4 linked regions of the Homo sapiens genome follow. The main gene of each other region encodes a partner of the protein of the gene in region 4 in a complex. Each region holds a gene or a part of one and is shown on either strand. Other genes may lie near its edges. A codon is read from its position in the direction of its gene.

Evidence for each region.
Region 1: the proteins of H3-4 (region 4) and ASF1A are in contact, whole or in part, in a crystal structure (PDB 8Z50), measured with the Homo sapiens proteins. Residues at the interface, in NP_003484.1 of Homo sapiens: Asp107 (codon at 686), Leu110 (codon at 677), Cys111 (codon at 674), His114 (codon at 665), Lys123 (codon at 638), Gln126 (codon at 629), Leu127 (codon at 626), Ala128 (codon at 623), Arg130 (codon at 617), Ile131 (codon at 614), Arg132 (codon at 611), Gly133 (codon at 608); in NP_054753.1 of Homo sapiens: Val45, Ala48, Glu49, Glu51, Asp54, Val92, Thr93, Val94, Leu96, Arg108, Gly110, Tyr111, Tyr112, Asn114, Glu116, Leu140, Asn143, Arg145, Thr147, Phe149.
Region 2: the proteins of H3-4 (region 4) and KAT6B are in contact, whole or in part, in a crystal structure (PDB 6OIE), measured with the Homo sapiens proteins. Residues at the interface, in NP_003484.1 of Homo sapiens: Ala2 (codon at 1,001), Arg3 (codon at 998), Thr4 (codon at 995), Lys5 (codon at 992), Gln6 (codon at 989), Ala8 (codon at 983), Arg9 (codon at 980), Ser11 (codon at 974), Thr12 (codon at 971), Gly13 (codon at 968), Gly14 (codon at 965), Lys15 (codon at 962), Ala16 (codon at 959), Pro17 (codon at 956); in NP_001357065.1 of Homo sapiens: Ser217, Phe218, Leu220, Arg227, Ser242, Ser243, Gly244, Cys248, Leu249, Lys250, Phe251, Leu255, Trp264, Cys266, Ile267, Glu268, Lys270, Gln278, Ala282, Asp283, Asn284, Met285, Leu286, Phe287, Cys288, Asp289, Asp292, Met307, Pro308, Lys309.
Region 3: the proteins of H3-4 (region 4) and KDM4A are in contact, whole or in part, in a crystal structure (PDB 2YBP), measured with the Homo sapiens proteins. Residues at the interface, in NP_003484.1 of Homo sapiens: Ala32 (codon at 911), Thr33 (codon at 908), Gly34 (codon at 905), Gly35 (codon at 902), Val36 (codon at 899), Lys37 (codon at 896), Lys38 (codon at 893), Pro39 (codon at 890), His40 (codon at 887), Arg41 (codon at 884), Tyr42 (codon at 881); in NP_055478.2 of Homo sapiens: Ile71, Tyr85, Asn86, Ile87, Gln88, Ala134, Asp135, Val160, Ile166, Thr167, Ile168, Glu169, Gly170, Val171, Tyr175, Tyr177, Glu190, Asp191, His240, Lys241, Met242, Ser288, Thr289, Asn290, Arg309, Asp311, Met312, Val313, Lys314, Ile315.

The regions. Positions count from the first base shown.
Region 1 is NC_000006.12:118,889,208-118,897,171, reverse strand, and holds the start of ASF1A (histone chaperone ASF1A), read right to left. Parts: upstream 3,021-7,964; 5' UTR 2,759-3,020; coding exon 2,650-2,758; coding exon of another isoform or gene 1,847-2,649; intron 1-1,846. UniProt on the Homo sapiens protein: Histone chaperone that facilitates histone deposition and histone exchange and removal during nucleosome assembly and disassembly.
Region 2 is NC_000010.11:75,025,573-75,032,608, reverse strand, and holds part of KAT6B (histone acetyltransferase KAT6B), read right to left. Parts: intron 4,121-7,036; coding exon 1,563-4,120; 3' UTR 1-1,562. UniProt on the Homo sapiens protein: Histone acetyltransferase which may be involved in both positive and negative regulation of transcription. Required for RUNX2-dependent transcriptional activation. May be involved in cerebral cortex development.
Region 3 is NC_000001.11:43,702,130-43,706,035, forward strand, and holds the end of KDM4A (lysine-specific demethylase 4A), read left to right. Parts: intron 1-526; exon of another isoform or gene 527-599; intron 600-1,434; exon of another isoform or gene 1,435-1,487; coding exon 1,488-1,607; intron 1,608-1,890; coding exon 1,891-1,983; intron 1,984-2,100; coding exon 2,101-2,241; 3' UTR 2,242-3,389; downstream 3,390-3,906. UniProt on the Homo sapiens protein: Histone demethylase that specifically demethylates 'Lys-9' and 'Lys-36' residues of histone H3, thereby playing a central role in histone code. Does not demethylate histone H3 'Lys-4', H3 'Lys-27' nor H4 'Lys-20'.
Region 4 is NC_000001.11:228,424,322-228,429,401, forward strand, and holds H3-4 (histone H3.1t), read right to left. Parts: upstream 1,040-5,080; 5' UTR 1,005-1,039; coding exon 594-1,004; 3' UTR 524-593; downstream 1-523. UniProt on the Homo sapiens protein: Core component of nucleosome. Nucleosomes wrap and compact DNA into chromatin, limiting DNA accessibility to the cellular machineries which require DNA as a template.

The sequences.
Region 1 (7,964 bases), on a different chromosome or scaffold from region 4:
TTAAGAAAATTCTTTTCAAAATATTCTATAGTTTGGGCTGGGTGCAGTGGGCTCACTATAATCACAACACTATGGGAGGCAGGGGTGGGAGGACTGCTTGAGCCCAGGGGTTCGAGACCAGCTTGGGCAACATGGCAAAACTCCGTCTCTACAAAAAATTAAAAAATTAGCCCAATGTGGTGGCACATCGACTATGGTCCCAGCTATTCAGGAGGCTAAGGTGGGAGGATTGCTTAAGCCCAGGTTGAGGCTGCAGGGAGCAGCTGTGTTTGCACCACTGTACTCCATCCAGCCTGAGTGCCAGAGCAACACTGTCTCATTTAAAAAAAAAAAAATTCTATAGTTTAATTTTAAGAACAGAATTTTTAAAAGAACTGTAATATAAAAGTATGGAACCTATTAGAAGCCTTTGCTAAGTAAAAATTTCCTTAATCCACATAGCCTCTAGGTGGAGTATACAGGCATGGCACCTTTTTGAAAGATTCCTTTGCAGCTTCAGTATGACTCAGCTTAAAATATTTTTTAAAATACTAAATAAATGCTCAGTAATGGTGCCTAGGAAGTGAAATATACCATTGGAAATAAGTATGTTTTTGACACCAGTACTGTAAATCCCTGATGTGATTCAGCTGGGTTCTGAATGGATCCCAGTTAAAAATGGAACGTTTTGGCTTTATGAATGGCTGGTTTCATCTATGCAATGTAAAAGCCCTGTAACGACATCCTGAGTCATCTATCTTCTTTGTTCAGAGCTGACTCCTAAAATGGAAGGCAACACTTGAGAAATACCTGTAATTTGAAGAACTTCTGGTGGTATATCTGAAAAACAGTGTGGTATAAGTTGGAATGGACCGATCAATGGTTTTTCTTTTGTCTATTTTTATATGCAGTTGGCAATAAAAAAAAAATTACTGTTGGGTGTGAAAAATGGGCCTGGTAGCTGCAATGCTTATATTAATAGTAGTATCATAGGAGAGTAATCAAATGACTTCAGAGTAATAAGAAAAATACCCCTTAGTGTTATCAATGGCCTATTTGAAATTATTTTAATAAATGAATCATCTTTCAAAATTTGCCCTATATATGTATGTGCATTTATGCTCTATATAGGTTTAAAAAAAAAAAAAAAACGGGGGCACATGTTAAAGTAATAATTGTGATTACCGAAAGGAGATAGGGCAAGGCACTGAGTACAGAGAACTGTTAACTTTATATATGCCTGTACAACTTTCTAAAAGTTTATTACAATGAATATATATTGTTTTATAATTAAAATTAACCTTACATATGATATATACATTTTAGAGATTAAAAACTAGTTTTTAAAATGAAAAGTTTTACATGCCACGATTACCTAAATCATCTTCAATGCATTTTTTACATATACTTCTAGTTCAAAGTATGTCCCTCATCGATGAAGTTAAACTATTTCCCCTTCAAAACTGGCAAATGAAGCACTGAATTACTTTAGTAAAAGATAATTAAAGCAAAGATAATTGTCGTTTTAGCTTTCTAAATATTTATTACTAAAGATATTAAAAATACGTATTTTTAAGACCTTAAAATATATGTAGAAAAAATACCAAGAATTCTTGGACTGACATGAGGAGTTGACCTTAATTTCCTAGCCTACGTTTGTGTTTTATGTTTAGGGTGTGTTCTGTATTTGGATGTGGAGTTATTTTAGATTTCAACACGGTCTTGAAGAAAGTCTTCCTTCAGACTATTTATAAGGCAGAGATTAAGTCCTGGAAATTATTTAAGTATCTTATTTCTGCTTTTAGGTTAAATGTAACTTCCTACCTCAGCTCTATTTCTCTTCCTGAAATTAGCTTTTCGTCATTAGGGGAAAGGAGTCCACGTTGGTTGGGGAGCCTGCGCGCCAGCATCCCGGCGCATCCCGGGCGCCGGCCGAGGAGGACCGGCCGAACAGGACCCACGGCCCCCGGGGAGCGCCGGCGCCCAGCCCGCGGCGCGGAGGGGCCGAGCCTGCGCCCGCCTCCCCCGCTGGTTGGTCGAGGAAGCCAGAAATCAGCGCGAGGACAGCCTCGCTCTCCTCCCCGAAGCGGCCAGGCATGGCCAGCCCGGAGAGTGCGGCGACTCCACCGTGAGCTCTCGAGAGTGCCTGCCTGCCTTTCGCCGGGGGCAGGCGGGCGGCGGGGCAAGAGGAGGCGCCGTGCGCCGGGGTCGCTGGCCCAATTCTCGACTCGGGGTAAGATGGCTCCGCTCCGAACTCGCCGGCGCGACCACACGCACAGCCTCTCCCTTCCCAGCCTCCGTGCTCGGGCCCGGAGGGTCGCGGAGGCTGTTGGCGGCGCGGAGCCAGCCCGGCGCGACCTCAGGCGGCGCAGCGGGAGCGAGTGCGGGTCTCCGAGCTGCCCGCCCGCAGACAAAGCTGACAACATGGCTACCTCCGCTCCTCCGCTCAAACAAGTTCCTCGCAAGTTGAGCCCGGCAGGCGCCTGGGCTGCGGCGGAAAGCCGCGCGCGCCTCGGCGGCCGTCGTCCATCAACTTCAAGTTTCCCTCCGCAGAGCAGCCCGCGGCCGCCAGGCGCCGAACACAGCCGCCCAGCGCGAGGCCCGGCCCGGGAAACTTTCAACGTCTGCAGCCCGCAACTGACAGCCCGGGCGCACGGGCGCCGCACTCACCTTCAGACAGGTCCTCGATGCACTCGAAGGTGATCTCGAACTGGAACGGGTTGTAGAAAGGAGAAGGGTTATCCAGCACCACTACATTGTTCACCTGAACCTTTGCCATATTTTGAAAAAAACACAAACAATGGGAACTGGGGCTGGTTGCGGCACAATAAAGTCCAGCGCGCGGCCGCTCGGGAGAGCGCAGACCCCCGCTCCAGCGCCGGCCAGACGTCGTGCAGCGGCGACTTGAGAAACTTTTTTCCTCTTTTTATTTACACGGGAGCACTCCACAGTGTTTTGCAGCTTTCCTATTTCACTAAACTACAGCCCATTCTGCTCTGATAAGTAGCAGCGTTGCCCTCGATTGGCTGCACCCGAGTTCTGACCCTCCTCCTCCAGCGAGGGCCTCGGCAGCCAGCAAGATGGGCTCCCGCTCCCGGAATGGACTCGGAAACTTTAACTGCGGCTCCACCTGCTGGTGTGGATTAGGACAAAGGCGGAGAACAAAGTGAGTGGAATAAGGGCTGGGAGGCCCGCGCGGAGGCCGCCGGCGGCGGCGCGGAGAGGGGCGGAGGGGGCGTGGCCGCGGCGGGGAGGCGTGGCTGCGGCGGGAGGGCGCGATCCGGCCGACGCCCGCCCCTCCAGTTGGCTTCGTGTGGGTGTTTTGGCGTTTTTTTGTTTTTTTTTTTGTTTTTTTGGTTTTTTGATTTAACGCTCTTTTTACATCAGTGCAACAGCTTTGCCGGCCTTGCTGAATTTAGCAGATGAGAGTCGGTGTTTACACTGGGTTAGGTTCAGCTTTCTGCGTATCGGGTAGTATTTGGAGTAGAGAGAAAGATTGGCTGCAGGGGAAATAAATTGCATGTTATAGACCGATGTCAGCTCGAAAGGAGCAAAGCCATTTTGGAAATCTAGCTCTTGGCCAGTATCTACGTTTAGGCACGACAGCGCCGTTAAGCAACACAAAATGAAGGGCGAGGAATGATTTTCTACACACTGTGCTTGGAAAATTTAAATAGGTAACCTTTGGGCTTGCACCTGGGCGTCTTCTTCGGAGTCCAGATCTGGGAAGTCCTAGAATAAAAAAAAATCACAAGAGGTGTGATCAGTTATACTTCAGGTTACTGCCATTTGGAGAGCATAGCAGGAACATAAAAGGAGAAAATGGAAGTGTTAGGAGACCAACAGGGCAACAAACGTAATAGAGATGGGAAAAAGAACACAAAGACATAGCAAGACATTTGATCTTCAAAAAAATTTCTGACCTAAACCGTTAGTAAAGCAAATTCTGAGGAGCCCTTGCTTGCCTGTAACCAGTTGAGGTCTGAACTGAGGAAATGTTGATTCGTTTATGCTGCTTGGCTACCATTGCGGGGAAAGAGAAAGCTTTAACATATTTGTGAGCCTAAACCGTTTCTATTTAGTAAGTGGTATAAAGGTTTGTTTTATTATCTGCTAGCCATAAACCATCATTTTTTTCCTTAAATGTTGTGAATGAAACCACCAAACTTGGCCAAATTCAGAGAGAAAATTAATTCTTAAGTATGTGTTCTGGAAGAGTTTTCTCTTAGTATAGTGCCCAGAATTTTGATTTGTCATTCTTTGGTCATTGTTCATACTTAAGTAGGTGGCTTTTGATGAAACGTTTTCATCTGATGGTCTTTTGAAAGTTAATGTGAGACAGCTAATGTCAACCCCTCGTACATTTAGGAAAACCGGTTAGAGTGGGGAAGAGTTCCCTTTTTTTGTCAGTGGATTGAACAGTTAGATATAGGACCTACCAAAAAACACTTCTTCAAGCCAGTTGTTTGTGACATTAGAGTATTAAGAGTCAAACCATGGTGATAGACACAGATTTTTGTGGCTGATAAACAACATACTCTTCATTCTTATTAGTGCTGGTCCTAACACTAGCAGATAAAGTGGAAATTGCTGTATGCTGTAAGACACTCTGTATATGTAAGATAAAATGACCATTTGAAGATTAAAACTCCTGTGAGACTGGTGTATGCAGTTGTCTGATTATTACAGGTACTCTTAAGAGGAGAGTCTAGTCAGTCTCATGAAAACGACATTTTATGCTTGTTAAAATCACGTGCATTTTGCAGTCTGACCGTAAGTGTTACAATGAGACTAGTTGTAAAACTCACTTTTGGTGGATGTGCAGCATGAAGGACTGAGAAGATCTACCTGAATGCCACTAATTTGGCTTATTTTCTTTAAAATTTTTTGTTTAACACATCATATGCAACAGTATTTAAGAAGAAAAAACTCCCCAACATTTCACTGGAAGCTGCAAGAATTAGCTCCAGGCTTCTCCTGTCTTAACTCTTGTATTATTGCTTGTCAGAAATACTAAAGGGTCGTTGAGCACTTTGTTCAATAGTTTCCTCACCATTGATACTACCTTACTCCAGGAGAGACCGAAAGGATTCCTCAGATATGTCCTGGCATATTTCTAATTTAACTGGTATGCTGTAGGAAAAAAAGAATTGTGAAAGCCTCTCTCTGGTTTCAGAGGCAATCAGTAGGACTTGTTGCTGAACAACTTTGGTGACTCCCAAACATCTAATTGTACAACAGATGGGTCACTGTGAATGTCTTTATTAAGTACCCAAGGGGGTCCCACATAATGTTTGGAGGGCTGCATGGAATGTAATCCCCCAATCACTTCTCACTATGGGTTACTTGGGGGAAGGATGGCTGAGAGAGATTTTATCGGCTCTAAGATGAACAGAACAAAGCCTAAACTAGTGCTTAGGGCAGAAATACATGAAACTAGTTAGTTGTTGTTTTAGACTGAATTATGTCTCCCCCAAATTCGTATGTTGAAGCACTAATCCCTAGTACCTCAGAATGTGACTGTATTTGGAGATTAAGTTAAATGAGGTGATTGGGGTGGGCCCTAATCTAATCTAGCTGGCGTCCTCACAAGGGGAAATTTAGATTTACAGAGAAGCACAAGGGTCACACGCACACAGAGGAAACACAGCAAAAAGGTGGCCATTTGCAAGCCAAGCAAAGAGGCTTTAGAATAAACCAAACCTGCCAACACCTTGATCTTGGATTTCTAGCTTCCAGAACTGTGAGAAAGTAAATTTCTATTGTTTAAGCCACCCAGTGAGTGATATTTTGTTATGGCAGCTCTAACAACCTAATATAGCTATAAGATATTTTTCCCCTCAGAATTAAGCTTATTTGAGCATCTAATCTTACTGAATCCAAATATTGGTCAGTTCCCAAGCACTTCCTGTGGGTGAAATGATGTGGTCCTTTAGCCATGCCAGTAAGGGTGTGGCGTATGTGGAGTGGTGTGCTGTTGCCATTCTTCAGAGGAAGTATATACCACTGGGCATATAGCTTGAATTCTGAAGACACAAGATGCAGCTTACTTGCATGGATTCAAGACTCCTCTACAGAGAAGTGAAACTTGAAGTCAAATTGAGGTCATACACAAAACAAGATGAAAGAGCGAATTCAAATATACTAAAATTGAATTAAATCAAAATGTGCCAAATTAAAATACATTAGAACTAGGAATTAAATTGAGTGTCAGCCCGTGTCTACTGCAAAAGTTATCATAGGAATGGAAGTACTAACCTCTAGCTTTTGTTCAAATCTAGATTTCCACCTCGGGTAATCACTGTGTTGAATTGTCTTCTCATTTGTATTATTACCAACTTAAAAAAATTCCTCATGTAAGGCTTGTTTTAATATGGTCTTTAGTTAGTTTAAGAGGCTCCTTTTTATTTATTAGAAATAGGATGTCAAAATTTAATGATAGTTTTAAATAAAATTTTCTGTATAAATATAGACTAGAGATTTGATGGAGTTCATAGACATTTCTAAATGGAGTAAATTGTACAATAATGATTTCAATAATAATTCATTACATACATACAGAGAGCATTTGTTATGTGAAATTTTTATGCTAGGCTCTGTGAGAAATAGTCAAAGATAAGACATACAAAGACCTTATGGTTCAGTAGGAAAGGTAACTAATCAAATAAGTATGATGCGAAATAGAAAGTGTTAGATGCACCTGTAACCAGTTATGTTAAAATAGGCAAAAGAAAAAATGTTTTCTTGACAATTTGTAAAAAACTTTAAAATACCTGTTTTTGAGCCTCACAAACAGGAATGGCAGGAGGGTAAGATATCATCCCATATAACAAATGAGGATGCTGCTGCTCAGAAACCCATTCCTCTGATGGCTGTCCTAGTACCTTTGTACTCTCTACCATGTCAAGTAAATTTTAAAGTGGGCTTTGTATGTAGAAAAAATAGATTGGTATCATTTTCTGGAAGAACCCACAGGCTGGCGGACACTCCAGTAATGACTTGATTAATGAACTCTTGAGGAACAAAGCTCCATTAATGAGGTTGGTCCAGGTGTATACTGGGAGAGAGAAGGAGACCCAGCCAAGGCAAAGCTGGGGGAGGCTCCCCACGGGGTACTACAGATGTCAAGCCTCCTGTTGAAAAAGGCATCCCTTGGAAGGTGTGGGGGATGGAGCTACACATCCTGGAATGCATCCTTATACTTTTTATAAGGTTTCCATGTCTGTTACATAGCGTACCCTCTCCCCTTCTCTGCTCCACGTCATTAATAAAAGTTTCACTGTTTTGTGTTCTTTTCTACCCATCATTGTGTTAGAAGTTTGTTGAAGGTATAAGCTATATCTGATCCCTTATCCATAGCTGGACTATACTGTAAAACACCTTTTGCATAGCCATAGGTTACATCAGTCAGCTTTCTGAAGCACTGTAATTACATTTATTGACAGTTTCTTGGTGTGTATATCATTATGTTGTTTTTGACCATTTTGAAGGGAAATGCCTAATAATTATTTTCTGTTTCTTATACCTAGTTTTTTGTCTGTGTCTTCTTAGTCCTCTTATCAATCAAGGTCTTTCTAAACTCGTTTCCTCTTGAACTCAAGTCTCTACTTGCAGTCCATCTTCCTTCATGTTTTATAATATATTCCATCCTTTTCTCTCTAACCCTCTACTGCTCTCATTCATCAGAGGTTCACTTTTTAATACCAGGAAAAAAAACAGTAATCGGTAGAGAGGACTCAAATCTTTAAAACATCTCTAGGCTAGACCACTGCTCGTACAAAGCCATTACTAAGCATAGCAGCTTTTCTAGTTGGTTACTATAGAGACAAATGACATTAGATGGAGTGACGCTTGGCAGAAGCTAGGCATGTAGGCTTTGTGAGATTGGAGGCCTCATATGCATGGTCATTTAGAAAGAGTCAAAAACCAGAAAGGATAGGGAGGGGAAATGCTTCACAAATGAGCTAATAGGTAATTAATTGGTA
Region 2 (7,036 bases), on a different chromosome or scaffold from region 4:
CTTTATTTTAAAGACAATGATTGGCATACAGAAGGTATGCACTCGCATAAAATAAACTTTCATGAAAAGCATTAAAATCCATTATAAATTAATTTATTAAATAGGTATTTGGTATATGTGATGGTTTTATTAGATATTACTCTTATTTATTGCCAACCCCTCCCCCAAAGTCAAAACAAATCAGAAAATCCCATAACTCCAATTTACACTAAATAATTTATTTTCCCAAAATGTGTATGTGTTCTGAGGCGTGACACATGATACAGTTCCATTGGTCATTCTCTATCAATCATAATATGACAGGACACAAGAGGCTAAAAATGGCTCATCATAATTTATTTTATGTTAAAATGTACAGCTTTTTTTTGTTTGTTTTTTGTTTTTTTGAAGTGACTGACTAAAAAGAGAACAGATAAATACAAGAGTGTCGCTGGATCCTATTTTATACAAGGATTACGCCTCTCCTGCTTGGCCCTTACTGTCACCCTGTACAGGTACAAAGGCTACAAAAAAGGAAGCAATATAAACAGACACAAATAACTTTTTTGCTTTTTTACATGCGATTTGTAAGCTTAGTTTGAGCTATTCACAAGCTACTTTTCTATTTTTCCTTAAAAAATAACTCCAATATTTTATAAAGATAGAAAAATCTACAGATGGAATGAAAATGTAAAGTTAGAGGCATTTCCATAAAATAGCAACTTTACACCAAATTCACTATTTTTTTTTAAATCCTGCCAAGTATTTGGACATATATGAAATGTTTCAAAACCTGACAGATAAACACTGAGATATGCTTCATTCAATAAACAGAAGTCTGCATTTATAAAACAGAAAGCTGCCTTTTTTCCCCAAAGAAATCTGTCACCAAAATGGAAAAGGGTCTCAACTTTACACCAAACATTTAGCAATAAAACCCTTTTGACTAACCAAATGGGAATAGCTTTTATAGCTCTTTACAGTTTTATAATTAACAAAAATATAGTTTTTTTTAAAACCCTCAAATTAGGGCACCCTAATCAAGGCAAAAAACTTAAGAAATGGCTTACTGTTAGCACAACACTTGTACAGTACTACAAAATGCACTGTCACTAACAAAGACATTAGCGGCATGCTGAAGTGTCACCTTAAACAAAATATACAATAACTGAAATGCTAAAGGCATTTACATGGAGTGGACAGGGAAGGGAAAAAAAAAGCTCTAGGTTCAATATTAAAACAGATAATTTGGGGGGGCTTGATATCCACATTGTTTAACAGAAGCAGGCACAACAAGTGGCTGCCTCCAAATTGTAGTCCAAAGAGAGGCCTTCCTTTGCAGAGAATTTTATATAAAAGTAACAGAAATGAAGGTACCAAAAAAAAGAAAAAGGAAAAAAAGAAAAACAACTTGTATAAGGCTTTCTGCTGCATACAGCTTTTTTTTTTTTTAAATAAATGGTGCCAACAAATGTTTTTGCATTCACACCAATTGCTGGTTTTGAAATCGTACTCTTCAAAGGTATTTGTGCAGATCAATCCAATAGTGATGCCCCGTAGGTTTTGTGGACTGCCCACGTTGTCTACCTTCTCATGTAGGAGCCATTGAGAGACTGTTTGGACATGCCTGTGTTCATGTAGCCGTGATGTCCGGGGGCCGTGTACATCATGTTACCGTGGGGTGGGGTCTGCATTGGCTGCTGGGCATATGGCTGGGTGCCCATCATGCCCATCTGCATCTGCATAGGGTATTGGGGCGTTTGATTCATATAGCCATGATTGCTGTGGTAGCCACTGTTCATCATTGGCTGGGACATGCTGTACCCATTCATGGCGTTGAGAGTGTTCATGTTCATGTTCACAGAGTTGACATTGTAGGCTGGCGCTGGCATCAGGTTCACACTCATGTTCATGCCTCTTTGCATCGTTAAAGTCCGTGCAGGACCCTGCATGGCTACAGTCTGGGAGCGCCCATAGATTTGTGACTGATGGGTGGCAGCGGCTGGTGACAGAGACGCTGACTTGGTTCTCATGGAGATGTGGCCCTTGCTGGCAATCTGGGTTTGCAGTCTTTGGCTGTGAGAGATGCCAATATTTGATGCAGCCATGTTCCGTTGCAAAAGAGGCGGCGGCAGATTCATTGGAGGAGGAGTCAGGTTGGGGGGTGGGGTCATGGTAGCTTGTGCTTGGGGTCCCCCAGGGACGGAGTGTGGAGACTGAGAAAGTTGAACAAGCCCTGTGTTACTTAATGGTGTGGACAAAGAGGCACTGTTTGCATAGGAAGTCACAGCAGCGGAATGGCTGTAAGGCAATGAATGATCAATAAGTGTATTAGTTAACTGCTGCAGTTTGGCAAGGCTGAAGGTGGCTGACGGCTGCGGGTAATGCCCAGCCCCAAAATCACTCTGACCCATTCGCTCGTATAAGCCAATGTTGGCGTTGCTCGTCTCGGGGATTTCAGCCAGCTGCATGGGTGGGGTGAAGTTAGCAGCCATGCTGCACTGAGCCAGCTGCTGGCTGCTGCTCGGAGGCCTCTCCACCACACAGCCTTGAGGAGACTTGACGCTGCAGGTCGGAGGGGAGCTGATGCTGGTTTGCTGCAGCATGCTGCAGCTCCCGCTGATGTTGGACATCTGCTGGGTGACAGCACAGCTGCTCTGTGTCAGACTGCTGGAGGTGAGGTTGCTATAGGAGCAGCTGTTCTGTGAAGAGCCGTTTCCACAGATGCTGCCTCCCATAGTAGAATCGTAGCTGCTTGGGTTTTCGTAGTTCTCAGTTGTGCTCTCGATACTGCCCAGGTCACTAAATCCACTGTCTACGACTTGCTGTGAATGATCTGAAACTGATGGGACATCCATCATGGGACTGGTTTCCATGTTCTGCAGAGATGGCACTGAGATGGCACTTTGATCTGGGCTGATTTGGGCGTAGCTGTTTTCCAGAGCAGGGACACTTGGGCTGTTGACAGAACGTACGGACTGGCCAGGATGGGAGTGGACGGATGAAACTGGGCTACTGTGGTCCGACTGTTGGCAATCGTCGAGCGTGGTGGCAATCTGTGGACTTTGGTCTGCACGGGTGTAGTTCTGTAGGCTTCTACAGGCCTCTTGAGTCTCGGCACAATCCTGAAAGGTGTCGTCCTGTTCGCTGCTCTCCTGGGTCAAAGACTGAACGGCCTGGACAGTCTCAGAGTCGATTTCCATGGTTGCTGGGTTTCCCTCTTTGAACTCTGTATCGACTTCCTTGCTGTTCTTTTGGTCCTGCTTCTGTGCCTGTTCTCCTGGGGGTGGCTCCTCGTCAGATTCGGGTACAGCTTCAGGGTCCCCAGCAAGCTCCTTGGGCTCACTGTTACAAGAAGCTGTCAGGTCGACGCCACAGTCCATTAAGACCTCTGGGTTCGAGTGACCAGGCTGCACATTAAGGTCTAAAAAAGTCTCCTGGTTTTCCAGTACTTCTTTGAAGCTTTCTCTGGGCAGCTCTTCCTTCTCCACTTCGGCAGACTCCATGTGGCTGTCATCCTCGTCATCGGCATCATGGTCCTCGTTGTGGGATGGCTCTTCATCCTCTTCCTCCTCCTCTTCGTGATCATCCAAACGTGCAGAGTCTTCTTTTTCCGTGGAGATTTCTGGTTCCTCTTTTTCTTGGCTTTTAGCACCATCTGGATCTTTTTCTACATTTCCTCCTCCTTCTTCTTCTTCCCCTTCCTCTTCTTCCTCTTCTTCCTCTTCCTCCTCCTCCTCCTCTTCCTCTTCCTCAGGTTTGATGAGATCATCTTCTGGTTTTTCACCTGGTGATGTGTTTGGACTTACAGGGGCACATGTTTCTTCCCTTCTGTTTTCCTCTTGAGGCAACAGGGCTTCCCCAGTTTCCTTGACCTCCTCCTCAATCCTGATGGGACTGGGGCTGGTTTTTCCTTCTGAAGTCTCCTTCTGTTCTTCCACTGTTACCTGCTCGTCAGGCTCCATGGGTGTTTCTGGCGGGGTGTACAAATTCAGTTTAAATCCGGTCTTCCTCTCTTTGTTTTGCCTCCACTTAGATAGACCGCGCTTTGTTCCTTTTGGCCACACTTGTTTGCACTTTAGAGGTTCGGGATTGTCTTTACTGCCTTCTTTCAAGTTACTTGAATCATCATTCATATTGTCTTAGTGAAGAGACAAAAACGGGAAGGAAAAAAAACAGTCTTAGAAAGCATAACCATGGGCAACTTGAATTCATTCCTCTAAATTAATTAGCAAACACTGCTTTCAATTTGGCATGTTAAAAGTTGATGGTAAAGACATAATCAAGGCTAATGTGTAATAATATTGTGTTATAAACCAAGTAAATAACCTAGGCCTGGGAGAGTAACATATTGGGAACACATGGATATAGGCAATGCTAATGTGCTTATTTGAATTTAATGAACAAGACATTCTCTGATGCAAAAGCCCAGAGTTCCACAGTGTAAAAAAAAAAATCAATTTGAACATTTACAAATTAGGAAATATAGGGGAAAGGAATTAATGCTAGCTTATATACAAATCATTACTGTCCTGGAAAAATGACTAGAAGCCTTAACTCTCATATCTACCTAGAGAAAGTAAACCTCTGTTTGTGGACATTTATAGGATGTAAATGATCTTGGAAGACATGATTTATTTACTTTGATTTGAATGTTCTCTCTGGCATAAAAATAAGCTGTGTACCTCTGAAACAAATCAGTAAATAACTAAATACCCAAAACAAATGCATTTGTAATCATCATTTTTAGGATCATCATTTTTGCATGATACAAACTACAATGTAATTACTAGCAAATTCCTGAACATTTAAAATACAGGTATTCTTTTTAACACTAATTCTGTCCACACTGAATTCTGGATCAATATGTTGCTGATGTAAGGTTTGCATATTAAAGACACTTAGAAACAAACCATAATTGTGAAGTTCATTTCAGTTCAGGTGAGCTTTTTACTGAACCTATATGCACATGTTAATATAAATGTAAATATGTACATATTTATACAAGCAGATGAATAGCTATATACATATTAATAAATATATATTAATAAATATATGCATGAAGCACCCAAGTATTCTTAAGATCTTTAGATTACACCAATCTTCTAGAATCAGTGGTCAATTTAAAGGAAAAGCTTTATATAGAACAATAGTCTTATTAGAAACTCTATTTTGGAGAATAAAAATAAGATCTCACAATCATCATAAAACAGATATCCCTTCTGCCAGAATAGAGTGAGTTCTAGTCCAACTGGTGGACAGCAGAGTAAGCACTGGCTGATTTAGGTAATAAAAGGATTACAGATAAACTTACCTGCAAGTATTACATTCAAACCGACCAGCTGAAAAGAACACATATGTGATGTAGAATGTTTCCTTGAGAAGTGCCGAGTACCATGCCCGAGTTAAGAGTCATCTCAGGACATTTCTATTCACAATGGCAGGTAATAGCCATGCCAGTGCCCCCGGATTCCACATTCTTTTTATTTTTGAGACGGAGTCTTGCTCTGTTGCCCAGGCTGGAGTGCAGTGGCATGATCTCGGCTCACTGCAACCTCTGTCTCCCAGGTTCAAGCGATTCTCCTGCCTCAGCCTCCCAAGTAGCTGGGACTTACAGGCATGCATCACCACACCCAGCTAATTTTTTTGTACTTTTGGTAGAGATGGGGTTTCACCATGTTGGTCAGGCTGGTCTTGAACTCCTGACCTCAGGTGATCTGCCTACCTCGGCCGCCCAAAGTGCTGGGATTACAGGCATGAGCCACCATGCCTGGCTGGATTCTGCATTCTTATTCTACGTGCTACTGGACCTACCGGCTTTTGTTGGAACACCTCCCAAAATCAGAAGATGAGCTTTCTGACAATTATTTTTAAGAAAGAAGGACATCCTGAAAGGAATCAGGCATAATATGAGAAGACAGCCAAGAAGGGGAAATAAACCTCATTTTCACACACAAAATGATCGCTCACTGCAGTTTGTTATTTGTTTAAAAAAAAAAAACCCAAAGAATAAGGCTTGGTTTCTCTATACCCAGGGTAAGAAGTCATTCCTTCAGCAAAATACTGTATGCAGGAATAGCATTTCTGTGAACTAAGAAAATCAAGAAGATGCTTGCATATGTTCTTAAAACTGTGGCTTTTCAAAAGCTAGAGTGATCCTGTGGTTCCCAGGGAAATGAGATGGCCTGTTCCCCAGATTAAAGTAAGTTCTGAATAGAGTCATCTTGGCCAGGGAATAGAGAGAGTATACCATAAACCCTCATGATTCAGCTGGGAGCACACGTTCTCAACCTGACAGGCAAGGATGGGTGCTTTTAAAGACGATTCACTGGTGTTCAGTGTATTTTTTAGAGGATGGGGTAGAGGTGTCCCTGTCAACTTAAAAGGAAAGTCAGTTTACTGATTTTTATGTTATGCAATATTATCAAAGCTAATATTGATGTGTGGGTAAGTTTAGATGGTTCCTTTTTTTTTTTTTTTTTTTGAGAAAGGGTCTCATTCTGTCACCCAGGCTGGAGTGCAGTGGCACGATCATGGCTCACCCTGAGCTCAGGTGATCCTCCCACCTCAGCCTCCCAAGTAGCTGGGACTATAGGCACACACCACCACTGCTGACTAATTTTTGTATCTTTTGTAGAGATGGGGTTTTGCCATGTCGCTCAGGCTGGTCTCAAACTCCTGGGCTCAAGTGATCCAGCTGCCTCAGTCTCCAAAAGTGCTGAGACTACAGGTGCACACCACTACATCTGATTAATTTTTGTATTTTTTTTAGAGTAGGGGCTTTGCCATGTTGCCTAGGTTGGTCTCAAACTCCTGGGCTCAAGTGATCCACCTGCCTCAGCCTCCCAAAGTGCTGGGATTACAGGTGTAAGCCATCATGCCCAGCTTAGTTTAGATGAATCTTTATAGTAGTATATACTACGACACTACTGATTATAAAATGTACTATTGATTTACTAATATTTGTTTTCCAGGAAAAAAGAAACGATTCCATTCAATGCTCACACTGATAATAATATATACCTTGATTTCAGAAATAACTAAATGTGAAAAAAAA
Region 3 (3,906 bases), about 180 Mb from region 4:
AAAGGCTAATAGTTTAATATTATAAAAATAGCCATGTCTCACTTGCTCCCTGACAGTGTCTCAGGAACCCCTCAGAGGTTCACAGACCACATTTTCAGAAGTGCTGTTATAGGAGGTGGAACTGAATTGCAGAGAACTTAAACAATTTATCAAATATCAAACATTTGAGTAGTTAAATCTTAGAACACCTCAGATATTGGGTGTAGGAGGCTGTAGTTTATGCCTAATTGTTAGATTGATACAAAATGTATTTACTGATTACCTATTCAGTAAATGAATTGTCAATAAGTAGGGAACTGTTTCCACTCAATAAATGAACTGTAGCATGATTGTAAGAGCAGATGTGAGCATCCACATCCTTTTAGACTCACTGCCCTGCCCCTCTCTCATTTTTTAAGCCATGTCCCTAAGGACCTTCTCCCAGGTATACCTATCAGACCTTTCATTCAGCCAATATGCTGAATGAAATATCCCCCCGTATACCAAGCCCTATGCTGGGAATACGATGAGGACTTGGGGTACTTACCTGCTTCTGGAAGGAATAAAAGTTCTGAAGTACTTTGCCAGGTCCCATGGTAGGTGACTCTTTTTCATCTTTCCTGTTAAGAACATATTTCTTGGTTGGGCACAGTGGCTCATGCCTGTAATCCCACCACTTTGGCAAGCCGAGGCAGGCAGATCACCTGAGGTAAGGAGTTCGAGACCAGACTGGCCAACATGGTGAAACCCCGTCTCTACTAAAAATACAAAGATTAGCTGGGCATGGTGGCACGTGCCTGTTGTCCCAGCTACTCGGGAGGCTGAGGCAGGAGGATTGCTAGAACCCAGGAGGCTGAGGTTGCAATGAGCCAAGATCAGGCCACTGTATTCCAGCGTGATCTCAGCTCTCTGCAAGCTCCGCCTCCTGGGTTCACACCATTCTCCTGCCTCAGACTCCCGAGTAGCTGGGACTACAGGCGCCTGCCACCACACCTGGCTAATTTTTTGCATTTTTAGTAGAGATGGGGTTTCACCATGTTAGCCAGGATGGTCTTGATCTCCTGACCTGGTGATCTGCCTGCCTCAGCCTCCCAAAGTGCTGCGATTACAGGCATGAGCCACCGTGCCTGGCCAAAAAAAACACATGTCTTATAGTTGAGTATGGTTCTAGTATTTCTTCATGGCAGAGCCCTGGAGAACCCGCAGGGGAACAGTTGAGGGAATGTAAGAAGGACTCTTGATTCTGGCACTTAACTCCTGTGTTTACTAAGTTTGTTATAGCTGGATTTTTTTTTTTTTTTTGGTCACCTAGAAGCAGGAGAGGGCAGAGATAGGGGCAGACTTTGACTTAGCAAGGTCTTTAACTGTTAACATTTTTCAGCCCAGAGAGCTGCCTTGCTCTCTAAAACAGTTACTTTGTCCTGGTTCACTCTTCCCTGAGTAGAGGACAGTTACCTTTGTGTGCAGGTGGACGTTCCTTTCACCCTCCTTCCTTCCTGTTTCCTCAGAGCCAGGACTGTCTCCAGTTTGGTCCTCCTGCTGAAGGGGAAGTGGTCCAAGTGAGATGGACAGACGGCCAAGTCTATGGAGCCAAGTTTGTGGCCTCCCACCCTATCCAAATGTACCAGGTATCCAAAGTTCTACCTTTCTAGGGAGTGGGGGGTGCTTGATTAATTCTGTGCTTCCTGTTGGGCCAGAGGCGAGTCTTTGCTCTTAGGAGAACTAATAGGTTGGTAACCCTTTCAGAGCTAGGGGTCTGCCCTGTTTCCAGTCTGCCAAATGTGAAGTAAGGTAGTTGTTATTTTAGTGTTCTAACTCCTTCCTTTGACTGTAGGGGACTGCCACTGTGCATGGTGGACCAGGGAAAGAGTCAGGGATATCCTAGCCAAAAGGCCTTTGTTTCCTTGGTAGGTGGAGTTTGAGGATGGCTCACAACTTGTGGTTAAGAGAGATGATGTATACACACTGGATGAAGAGCTTCCCAAGAGAGTCAAATCTAGACTGGTGAGTATTTTCTGTGTCCCCCCAGTTCCTGTCTTGGAGGGAGGGAACAAGTCAAGGATGCATCCCTTTGTATTGTTCCTGGGGTAGCTGACACTTGGCTTGCTTATTCTTCTATAGTCAGTAGCCTCAGACATGCGCTTCAATGAGATTTTCACAGAGAAAGAGGTTAAGCAAGAAAAGAAACGGCAACGAGTTATCAACTCAAGATACCGGGAAGATTATATTGAGCCTGCACTATACCGGGCCATCATGGAGTAGGTGCTTCCAGGGTCCAAGGGATTCTCAGCCATCCAGGCAAGAGCACTCTGGGTTCCACAGCACAGCAGACATGGAACGCTGAAGTCTCTGAAAGTGAAGTTGTAAAAAGAAAAGGAATGAAATAACCGACCCATCATCTTCTCACCCACCCTCATTGCATTCCGCTGTAGTGAAAGGACGAGCCATTTCTGGGCACGTGGCAGCAGTCGCTGATCTCCCAGCTGAGGGGCTGAGCACTGGAATGCTGTGGCTGCACTGGCCCCAGTCCATAGAGGGGTCAACTATGCTGGCTGGACTGGCTGCCTTGTTCCTGGCCTAGGACTTAGCTTCATAACTATCACCTGCACCGACTAGGCTGAGGTGCTGGTACTTGCCCCAACCCCTACTTTTGTATTTATATGTGTGTGTGTGTGTGCGTGCGTGCGTGCGTGCGTGTATGTTTGGTCTGGACCAGCTTCTGCCAGCCCCTGGCCTTTACTTTCTTCCTTGCCTATGCAGGGCAAACAAAATGTGAAATTCTGCCCTCAGCTGAGCTGAGTAAGGGCTCCTGGGGGTTGGCTGGAGATGGGTGTGGCATCTGTCCAGGCCTGGAACCGTCTCAAGACAGTGCTGGCAAAGCTGCAGTATTGAGATGCTAAGGAGCTGATGCCACCTCTTTGTCTTCCCCTAAAGGAGAACATGGGGATAACATGGGTGTGTGCCCACAACACTCTAGGTGCAGAGCCCCTGTGGCAAAGTATTACAGGGTGTGGGTGGGGATTACCCTGAATCGGGGATTTTAATGATGGAAGCAGGCAGAGCCTGGTGGGTGATTCTGTCAACAGAAAATTGCAATCATGCAGGGGCTGGGAGGGTTAGGATGAAAAAACTGGGGCCATTGGAGGCCCACTGTAGGTGGGAGGGAGCTGATTTTGGGGTGGGGGGTGGGACTAGAGGGCAATACTGAAGGGGTTAAACAGGTTTTTGCTCCTCAAGAATTTGTTTGCCTGGGCCCAGGATTGGAGGGCTTCACACCAATACCCTGTGTATACAAGAATCAGATTTATAATACTTCCCCTTTTTTGTTACGTATGAACACTATAAACCAAATTATTTTGAAAACTGGTGCATCACCTTGTCCTTAGCAATAAAATGTGTTGAGCAGAGGATTGGCTGTCTGCCCCAAGGAGCCCACGTGGCCCACGTCAGGCTGGGGGGTGTATCTAGAGTCATAGGCTCTGGAGCGGGGCTGTGTATTTTAAGACAAATCAGTAAGGCATTCCCTAGGAAGTTCCAGAGAGTGGGTCCTTTGCTTGTCAAGCTCTGTATTAGGCCAAGTATGGTGGGTCATGGGAGCAGGGACACTTCTGGCTCTGAGCACCTCTTTGTTGTGCTTGCTCTGCCTTAGAGACGGGCAAGATGAGGTAACAGAGGAAGCACCAGACCAATGAGTCCTCTCAACAGAGTATCTCTCACTGCTGCCCCATTTGATACATCTTTGTTGAACTGGCCTAAGTTCATGCCAGCATCTGTGCTCTATACAAATTGTGGAACCAGTGGGAAGGATGGGTGCATTTTAGGTGCTTGAAAAGCAAGGGACTCAACCTCCAGTGGGATCCTCAGATTGCTCTCCGAGCTGTCTAGTTGGTGAGAAGCTTCCCTGGAGGAAGACCCAATCTCCTTTGG
Region 4 (5,080 bases):
AAGATAATACATACTACTTGCTGGCCTTAACAGGAGATGGGCTGTCAAGGCAGAAGACTAGCTGGACTGGTAACCTCACTGGAAACAAGCTGCGTGTACACACACACACACACACGCAGGACTTCTAACCTAATTTGAAAGAGGCTGAGCTGAGAACACACAAGACCAGCCAGCCTTCCAACCTAACTGTAGATAGGCTGAGTTGACACAACTAGCTGGGGTTGCTTACCTAACTGGAGATAGACCAATTAGGCTACCCTCAACACCCCGTCCCCAAAACAGACCAACCATGATTCTTATCTAAACGGATAGGCCAAGTTAGCCCCACACACTACTAGCTGGATTTGTGACTGGAGACAGGCTGAGAGGTAACGCGTGTGAGTAGCTGGCCTCCTAACTGGACAGGGTGAACACAGGATTCACCAGCCTCCCACCCTAATCAGAAGTAGGTAAGCCAGCACAGGCCAGCGGAAGGAACCCCCCGAAACCCAAGAGACTAGCTTGCTACAGCAACTCTTCGACCAGGTGGGTGGCTCTTAAAAGAGCCTTTGGGGTGAACGTTGCGCAACCTCTCAGGTGGCGAGATAGCCCTCCTAGGCCCGCTCCCCGCGGATACGGCGTGCCAGCTGGATGTCCTTAGGCATGATGGTGACCCGTTTGGCATGGATGACACACAGGTTGGTGTCCTCAAACAGCCCCACCAGGTAAGACTCGCACGCCTCCTGCAGCGCCATCACGGCCGAGCTCTGGAAGCGCAGGTCGGTCTTAAAGTCCTGAGCGATCTCGCGCATCAGCCGCTGGAAGGGCAACTTGCGGATTAGCAGCTCAGTGGACTTCTGGTAGCGGCGGATCTCGCGAAGCGCCACCGTGCCGGGCCGGTAGCGGTGCGGCTTCTTCACGCCGCCAGTGGCAGGTGCGCTCTTGCGAGCCACCTTGGTGGCCAGCTGCTTGCGCGGCGCCTTGCCACCCGTTGACTTGCGCGCAGTCTGCTTGGTTCGGGCCATGAATCCGAAACTGTTGGCCCCGCGGTGTCCTCTGCCCAGACCTCAGCGGATTGCTCGCTTTTATAGAGCTTGCCGCGTTCCCATTGGCTGGCCTCAGGTGGCGTGATGGCCCACTGCTCTCTGATTGGCCCACAGGGAACTCCACTCGGGCGCCTCTCCCTTATATTCATGCCTGTTGGTCGTGGCCACCAGAGCTGGCACCAGCATTGTGAAGGGTTGATGCGGGTAGGCCGCGGTGGTGGGGATCATCTCTCTCCAGCACAAGCTTCCTCATGTCTTCTCAGCGCTCCTCTTCTCCCTTCCCCATGACTTGGGTGGCAAGAGCCTTCCAGAAGCCAGCACATGGCATTCCACTTTTTTAAAAAATTAATTTATTTTTTTATTTTTTGAGATGGAGTTTCACTCTTGTTGCCCAGGCTGGAGTGCAATAGCGTGATCTCTGCTTACTGCAACCTCCACCTCCCAGGTTCAAGCGATTCTCCTGCCTCAGCCTCCCGAGTAACTGGAATTACAGGGATTACAGGTGTCCGCCACCATGCCTGGCTAATTTTTTGTGTTTTTAATAGAGATGGGGTTTCACCATATTGGCCAGGCTGGTCTCGAACTCCTGACCTCAGGTGATCCACCCGCCTCGGCCTCCCAAAGTGCTGGGATTACAGGCATGAGCCACCAGGCCCAGCTGGCATTTCACTTTTTTTTTTTTTTTTTTGAGACGGAGTCTCTCTCTGTCGCCCAGGCTGGAGTGCAGTGGCGCAATCCCAGCTCACTGCAAGCTCCGCCTCCCGGGTTCACGCCATTCTCCTGCCTCAGCCTACAGAGTAGCTGGGACTACAGGTGCCCGCCATCATGCCTGGCTAATTTTGTTTTGTATTTTTAGTAGAGACGGGGTTTCACCATGTTAGCCAGGATGGTCTCGATCTCCTGACCTCGTGATCCGCCCGCCTCGGCCTCCCAAAGTGTTGGGATTACAGGCGTGAGCCAGCGTGCCCGGCCGGCATTCCACTTTTACACAGTGACAAAGCTCTGGGATGCAGCCAGAGTTAAAGGAATCTCCCACTTTTTATGACCTGCAAAGAACTCCCTTACCTGTACGGCTTAGATGAGCCTTAGGATTCTGAAGAAGGTAAAGATGTGCCTTTCTGGCATATTGTCTATTTTGAGATAAAGGCACTTAAAAAAAAAAAAGAAGAAGCAGGTGTAGGAAGATCATTCTGAATTTCTTGTTGTTTCTTAAATACAAGAGATGAAATTCCCATATGAAAGATGTTCTCCTTATAGTAAAAGCAAGGGAACGTTCTTATCATCAAGGACGGGAGGTGGAAGCTTCCAAATCTCCTCCAACTCTCAAGTTGAAATTTGATCCCTAAAGTTGGAGCCCAGGGAGGGGGGGGCCAGTGGGAGGTGTGTGGGTCCTGGGGTGTCACCCTCTGAATAGAGTCCTGCCCTCCTTTAGGGTGAGTTTTCACTCTGTTGGTTCCCTGAAGAGCTGGTGTTGAAAAGAGCCTGGCACCCCTCTCCCCTCTCTCTCTGGCGTCCTCTCTCGCGGCAGCCCTGTGACCTCTGCACATACATGGGTTCCCCTTCACCTTCCACCATGAGCAGAAGCAGCCAGAGGCCCTCACCAGAAGCAGAGGTGGGCCCTATGCTTGCTTCCTTCCTTTCTCCCTCCCTCCCTTCCTTTCTCCTTCCCTCCCTTCCTCACTCCCTCCCTTCCTTTCTCCTTCCCTCCCTTCCTTTCTCCTTCCCTCCCTTCCTTTCTCCTTCCCTCCCTTCCTTTCTCCTTCCCTCCCTTCCTCACTCCCTCCCTCCCTTCCTTTTTTTCTTCTCCCTTCCCCTCCCCTCCTTTCCCTCCTTTTTTCATCTTGCTCTGTTGCCCAGGCCCCTCTTACCTCAGCCTCCCAAGTAGCTGGGACCACATCCAGCTAATTTTTAAATTTTTAATTTTTTTGTAGAGATGGGCTGTCATTATGTTGCCCAAGCTGGTCTTGAATTCCTGAGTTCAACTGATCCCCCGACCTTGGCCTCCCAAAGTGCTAGGATTACACCGTGCCCGGCCACTATGCTTTTTTTTTTTTAATTTTTTGACCTGAGTCTCACTCTGTTGCCCAGGCTGGAGTGCAGTGATGTGATCTCAGCCCACTGCAACATCCGCCTCCCGGGAAGTTCAAGCGACTCTCCTGCCTCAGCCTCCTGAGTAGCTGGGATTACAGGCGTGAGCCACTGCGCCCAGCCACTGTGCTTCTTGTACAGCCTGCGAAACCATAAGCCAAATAAACCTTTTTTTTTTTTAATAAATCATCCAGCCTCAGGTATTCCTTTAACAACATGAAACAGACCAAGATAGAAGCCAAGAGAAATCTATACAAACAAACTTTATTAAACTAACCCTTATCTTCCTAGTTGTTGCCACAGTTACTACTCTTTGTTCAACCTAGTGTGTAAGTATTTTGACTTAGTCATTTCTTCACCCCATTAACTATCCTCACTCAAGCCCCGTGGCCGTATCAAATCTCACAACTTAATAGTGTTTGTCCACCTCTGTATATAAGTGACTCTAACTGCCTCTTTGCATCTTCATTTCCTTATGAGGGCTCCTGTACCACATTAAATTTGTATTAAATAACTGTATGTTTTTCTCCTGCTCATCTCTCTAATGTCAGTCTAATTCTTGGGCCCACCCTGGACCCTAAGATAATGGAGGTAGAATTCTGCCTCCCCTACAGCGCCCCTTGTTGATGCATGACAGGCCCACTGTCTTTGTCTGTTTTGCGTTGCTGTAAAGGAATACTAGAAGCTGGGTAATTTATCAAAACTTTTTTTGGCTTATGGTTCTGCAGGCTGTATAAGAAGCAAGGCTTCAGCATCTGCTTCTGATGAGGACCTCAGGAAGCCTCCATTCATGGTGGAAGATGAAGGGGAGCCCCTGTGTGCAGAGGTCACAGGGAAAGAGAGAGGAGGAGGTGCCGGGCTGTTTTTAACAACCAGCTTTGGCAGGAACTAATAGAGCAAGAACTCCACTCCCTACAAGGGAGGGCAGGAGTCTATTCATGAAGGATCTGCCCCCAGGACCCAAGCACCTCCCACCAGGCTGCACCTCCAACACTGGAGATTAAATTTCAACATGAGAATTAATGAGACAAACACCTTATTCAAACTATAGCACCCACTACATTGCCATCTTTGCCTTATCAATGATTACCTGAACTCCTTGTCCCCATGCGTCAATCCACACAAGATGCTTGTTTGCCCAGCCTTGGTTCAGCTTCTCCCCTCCCCCAACGCCCTGATGTTTGGCCTCTCCTGGAGCAGGCCAGGCTCAGGGTAAAGTATCCTCAATCTCTTGTCCCCTCAGCCACCCTTCATCCCACTTCCCCAGACGTGGTTCTTTCCAGCCTCATTCATTCCTCCCTATATAAGAAAACTCCTTCTCTGCGTCACCTTTGGGAGCTTGCAGACATTAAGGTCAATGCTTTCTCCCTATTGCAGTATTCTGGTATCTCCTATTGCAATATCCTTTTGCATAAAGATATCTCCTTACTAAATCTGGATTGGTTTTTTTATTGGACAGTGGTTGTTACACAGAAGGCCTGCTGCCCTCTGCTCATCGGGTCTGGTTGGCTGGGCAGACAGATGGAAGGACCCTAGGACCATCCACCTGTGAAGTCCACCCAGGCTCGCCCCTGGTGTAAATGATGTGGGGTCTGACCTGGCCAGACCAGATGCTGCTCAACCCTTTAACTGCCTGGGAGGATTTGGACACGTTCCATCTTCCTGGAGCTGTCCCTCACTCGAGAGAGGCAGCCTTGGGACTCTCCAGGTGTCCTTAGGGCTAACGGGGCTGATGATGGGCGGATGATGGATTCCAGGCACCTGCTGCGACCTCCCCAGGAGCACCTGCAAAGCAGCCCTTTCTGCCTCGTGACTCTACCCAGGCCTCCCTGTGGAGTGTGGCACAGGCTTGGCCAGTTCTCCGAGTGCAGCCAAGAGGCTCATAGGTTTTGGGCACATGTCTGCGACCTCACTTTTCCAGTCATAAGGGCTTTTGCTTTTAGATTCTCAGGGGCTTTGAGCTCCCA